Regions from separate parts of the Homo sapiens genome. Here region 1 is linked to region 2. A link means that fine-mapping ties the variant in region 2 to the expression of a gene that starts in the linked region. Tissue or cell type: whole blood. Region 2 holds a variant in brackets; the other region holds the start of a gene. All regions are shown on one strand. Distances are between the middles of the regions.

Region 1 (2,683 bases), 64 kb after region 2:
GGACTATTTCTGAGGGTTAAATTAGTATGCCACAGTTGGAACACTGTCAGGCACATAATGCTTGCCAGATATTGACTATTTGTCTTTGTCCTATGAGGACAATGGTACCCCACTGTGGGGTTCTCAATTTTGTATAAGAAAATAATGTTTTATGATTTGTTAGTAAAAGAAATACCTGAGGCTGGGCATGGTGGTTCATGCCTGTAATCCCAGCACTTTGGGAGGACGAGGCGGGTGGATCACCTGAGATGAGTTCAAGACCAGCCTGACCAACATGGTGAAACCCTCGTCTCTACTAGAAATACAAAAATTAGCCAGATGCGGTGGCGTGTGCCTGTAGTCCAGGCTACTCAGGAGGCTGAGGCTGGAGAATCGCTTGAACCTGGGAGGTGGAGGTTACAGTGAGCCGAGATCGTGCCACTGCACTCCAGCCTGGTCGACAGAGCAATAGTCCATCTCAAAAAATAAATAAATAAGTAAATAAAAGAAATATCTGAATACCCCTGCCATGGAAAGAAGAAACAGAGCGAGAAAAGGGAGTTGGTAGGTCGTAGCATTACAGAACTGGGAAGGATGTGTTCAGTCCCTATTTTATAGACGAGGAGGGAAGTGTGATGTGTCCCAGGGTTTCACTGAGGATACACAGCCATAACTCTCTATTGAGAGTGGGACCAGGGCCCTGGGGGTAGCTATGGTCAAGTTGCAGACAAGAACTAACACTTGTAAGACAGGAGAGAAGCATTTAATTAGAAAAGCAGTAAAAAATTTGTGTATAACTACATTTGGTGAGCAAATGAAAGCTGTCAGACTCAGAAAAACAGAACTGCTGGTGGAACTGACTTTAGTAACTGGGGTTTTCTTTCTTTTGTTTCTTTTTTTTTTTTTTTTTTAAAGACAGTTGCACCTTTGTCACCCAGGCTGGAGTGCAATGGTGTGATCTTGGCTCACTGTGCAACCTCCGCCTCCTGGATTCAAGCGATTCTCCTGCCTCAGCCTCCTGAGTAGCTAGGATTGCAGGTGCCCGCCACCAGGCCGAGCTAATATTTTGTATTTTTAGTAGAGACAAGTTTTCACCATGTTGGCCAGGCTGGTCTTGAACTCCTGACCTCAAGTGATCCACCCCCCCCGCTCAGCCTCCCAAAGTGCTAGGATTACAGGCGTGAGCCACCACTCCCGGCCATACCAGGGTTTTCTATTGAGTTTCTTGCCAAGGGTGACTCGCAATAACAACTCCCCCTGCACTTAGCTCAGGACTGGAAAGCTCAGGCAGCATAGGGTGAATAAAAGCCTGAGTAGTGCAGTCCCCACAGAGGGGCAGGGGGGCCACAAGGTGGGCAGCAGCAGGGACAGGCATTATGAGGCATTGGGGGGGGCTGTGGGGCTGGACATTGTGAGTCACTAGCCTGACCTGGCTGTTTCCTGGTAACCAGGTGACATAGGAAGCTTTGTGGGTTATAAGCATCAGCCAGGGCCAGCAGCCCTCAGTCAGTAGCTCGCAGTGGAGGGAGGAGGAGCTCCAACTGTGCTCTTTGATGGCAGTTTTTGCACCTTTGGGTGCTTGTCATGTTCGTTTATTTTTCAAAGAAGACAGCAGGTCCCTGACCTCATAGACCAGCTAGTTTGGGAGGTGGCGGCAGAATAAGGGCTGAGGACCCAGATCTGCCTGGGGTCAGGCTGCTTCTAAAAGTGCAGGGCCACCCTCAGTAGTGTGGCTGCTAGGGCAGCACAGTTACAATTTCGCTGAAGGCTGAGGCAGGAGTGGAGAGGCATGGAGAGGCCCCATGGGGAATATACTGACCTGTTGTATCAACTCCCACTGTGGCTGGCCCAGGGGGAAGGACGCACCCTGTTATGAATCTGATACTGATATTTATGAGACTGTGGCTGCTGCAACATCAGAATCCACTACTGTAGAGCCTGGCAAGCTGGATGTGGGAGCCACGGAGGGCCAAGACCTGCAGCACATCAGCAACCAAAAGATGCCCACAGGTAAAAAAGCCACGGGTGCCGTTTACCCTCTGGCACACCTCTGGCCACCCCCACCCCCTTCCCTTACCCTCATCCCCAGAGACATCCTCAGCTTCCAGCTCCCTCCTGTCCATAGCCAGCTTTCCCAGGTCTGGGCATGGGGGACAAAGGCTGACTCTGCCTCCTGTCTTTGTCGTTGAGACTTTTTGATCTAGAAAAGGGAGAGCCCTTTTCTCAATGAAAATTCAAATACCCCAATTTTGGAGTCCCCATCCCATTCTCTAGCCTCACCTATCTGGCCGGTTTGGTACCTAAATGAAGGAACCAGCTAAGGGTCAGATTGTTTTTCTTCCATCTCTTAAGGTAGCTTATTTTTTGTAAATTTTATTTATTATTTATTTATTTATTTATTTATTTATTTTAGATGGAGTCTTGCTCTGTTGCCCAGGCTGGAGTGCAGTGGCGGGATCTCAGCTCACTGCAACCTCTGCCTCCTGGGTTCAAGCGATTCTCTAGCATCAGCCTCCTGAGTAGGGACTACAGGTGCCCACTACCACGCCCGGCTAATTTTTTGTATTTTTAGTAGAGACGGGATTTCACTGTGTTAGCCAGAATGGTCTCGATCTCCTGACCTGGTGATCTGCCCGCCTCGGCCTCCCAAAGTGCTGTGATTACAGGCATGAGGCATCGCGCCCGGCTCCTAATTTAATTTTTT
Region 2 (2,683 bases):
TGGAGCCAGGGAGTGTCCTGCCCAGGGTGGACTGTGACGTCCACATCCCCACCCTCATCCAACGTGAGTGCCCCAGCTGCTCACCTTGCTCCTCTTGTTGGTGTTGCCCTGGAAGGCAGACAGAGTCCATCAGAAAGGCCCCTGGCCCACAACCAGCCCCACCCCACCCCTTCCCATGCTGCACTACTGCCAGGGCCACCAGGGTCAGGGGATGTGCACACGACAGGACTTGGACCTGCCTCAGGCTCCGGGCTCTAGAGCAGGGGGAATGGGAGCTGAGGCCCAGGGACCTTCTGCCCCAACCCTCTGTGATGACAGACAGGGAAACTGAGGTCTCTCATAGAAAGAAAGCGCTCAGTGACCTTGGAACTGCCTGCCCTTGGAGAGGCTCAATTTCACCCTCCTATTACGGGACTACCCTAGGGAGAAGCTGAGCCCAGTTCAGCCCACACCTCAGCAGCTTTGCAGTCAGGCAGCTCTGCAGCTTCACCACTCAGGAATAGGGCCTGGTGGCTGCCATGGAGCCTCCATCACTCAGAGGTGATGAGATGGGCCTGACACCCCCACCCACAGGAGCAGCTGTGAGGCTCTTAGGAGAGGAGGTTTGCCAAGGGCTGAGATCTAAAGGCTCGGTCCAGGACCCTCTCCTCCCAAGCTTCAGGATCTTGGTTCCCAAGCACCCTGCCCCAGGCTCACTCACATCCAGGTCGTCCGGGATGGCCGAATCCAGCCTCTGTAACTCAGTCAGAAAATCCCCCAGGAAGGGGACCACACCCTGTGCCAAGGAGGGGTGGGGAGGTGGGAGGGGTAGTGGTGATGAGTATTGGCCCTCAGGTGCCTGCCCAAGGTCCTGTCCCATGAAATCCCATCAGCCCCTGTCTCCCAGAGCCCCCTCCTCAGGTCTCCCGGTTGGAGCAGCCAAAGACCCTCAGCTGCCTTTCCCAATTCTCTGCCTCCTGTATCCCAGCTGACCTCCAAGTCTAGCAAGCACTCCTTGTTAACCTCTATGGTGGGATTTTAACAAGTCACAAAGGCCTGTGGTCCCAGCTTTACCCTTCCCCACATCTAGTCTGAGTCCAGCTTTCCCAGACCCTTCCTCTGGTCTCTCAAATGAAGGTTTTCCAGGCCCAGTGGCCACAGGAGGACAGGGCTGGGGAGGAAGCCCCCGCTGTCTTGATATGGAGGCCTCCAGCTGGCGGGGAAGGGAGCCCTGTCCTCTGATCCCCTGCGGCCCGTCCATGCCACAGGCTCACTCACCTTCTTCTGCCTCCGCAGCCTCATCTGGACTCTCTGGGGGTTCCTCTCCTGGGTGGCCACCTTAAAGCTCCCCGCCTGCCAGGTGTCAGCGACAGGGACAGTGAGGCTCTCCTCCTCTCCCCCAGTTACACCCCAGCCACCCCGCACTTGGATCCCCAGGGAGTGGCGGGAGCCACCTGGCACCGTGCTCATACCACTGGCCCAGATCCACACTCCCTGTGTGTGTCACCCAGTCTTGCAGCCGGGCCTCCCTGAGACTGTTTCCTCTTCTGTAAAGAGTGATGCAAACCACAGCTACCTCACAGGGCCTCTGAGGGCTCAGTTTCCTGTAGCTGTTGCCGTTGTTCTCACCGTCATCCCTCTGAGGAAGAACCAGGCACGAGC[A/G]CCCTCAAATTGCTTTCTTTTCTTGAACTTCATTTCTACCCTGTGAGGCCTGCACTACAGGCTCAGCATCCCTTCATTTTCCAGATGAGGAAACAGAGGCCCAGAGCGGGCAGTGGCTCCCCAGGGCCCCCAAAGAGAGGACGCCTCCTTCTGCTCCTGGAGGCTCCGTCTCGGCTGCCTTCAGCTCACATCCCAGCACCACCACCCATCAGGGTCGTGTTCTCTGGAGTCTTTGAGTGTCTAGGTCTCCAGCCACATACAGTCGTGATGGGAAAGGGACAGGGCATTTTAGGAGACCTGGTTAAGTGGCACCTGCCTATCCCAGCCCCACTGGAATCTCTGCCACGCAAACTGGGTTTGAGCCATGCCAAAGGCTTCGCCTCGCCAATGATCCCCCAGGGGAGTTCCGTGCACGGAACTCTCTCTTTCTCCACTGAGGAAGTAGCCTCCTGATGCGCCATCTCTGACTGCAATGGCAGGGTTTTCCAGAGTCCTGGGTGGGGTGACATGTTGCCTTCTCATTTGCATGGACGATTCTGAGATCTGGTCAGGGAGGATCCCCTAGCAATGTATGAATCCCCCAGATACTTGTCATGAGCATGCGTCGCTGCTAACCGGTGAGAATCCTCTGACATGACCGTTTTTGGGTGTCTGCAAAGGGCAGAGTGGGGAGTCCCAGCAAACAGCTACGTCTGTCCCCAGTATGCCCATTGGTACCCAAAGCTGGGCAGTTACTGGACTCCCTGCCACATGAGCTTCCTCTGTTGTTGTTCCCCCTCTCCCCCAGTGCAGGCCAAGGCCCCCTGCCCATGGAGGTGTGCTGCAGACAGCAGCAGCAGCAGCAGCAGCAGCAGCAGCAGCAGCAGAGGCCTGGCTTCCTGAGGAATTGCTGGCCGGTTTGAGGAAGGAAGGAAGTCCCACCTACCATGATCACCCTCCAGCCTGGAGGAAGCTCCATGCCAGCAGCATGGACCAGCATGGGAGCCAGAGCCCTGCTAATGCTGCAGCTCATCACCCCTGCTCAGCAGCCCAGCAGCCCAGC

Evidence for each region. PIP is the estimated chance that this variant, and not a neighbour inherited with it, causes the effect.
Region 1: DRICH1 starts here. The variant in region 2 is fine-mapped to the expression of DRICH1 in whole blood (TOPMed, PIP above 0.99).

Annotation. Positions count from the first base shown.
Region 1 is chr22:23,631,122-23,633,804 of GRCh38, reverse strand. It overlaps DRICH1 (aspartate rich 1), which reads left to right and starts at 1,484. Exons shown (of 12, transcript NM_016449.4): 1 at 1,484-1,989. The coding sequence starts at 1,782. It overlaps LOC124905089 (a long non-coding RNA gene), which reads left to right. Exons shown (of 3, transcript XR_007068021.1): 3 at 895-929. RefSeq lists a silencer at 308-445.
Region 2 is chr22:23,695,263-23,697,945 of GRCh38, reverse strand. RGL4 (ral guanine nucleotide dissociation stimulator like 4) reads right to left here. Exons shown (of 11, transcript NM_153615.2): 7 at 1,258-1,332; 8 at 701-775; 9 at 85-108. It also overlaps the pseudogene GUSBP11. Among named protein-coding and RNA genes, the nearest start is that of RGL4, 5.6 kb to the right of the region's middle. RefSeq lists enhancers at 1,212-1,291, 2,026-2,526. The variant A/G (reference allele first, on the strand shown) is at 1,642.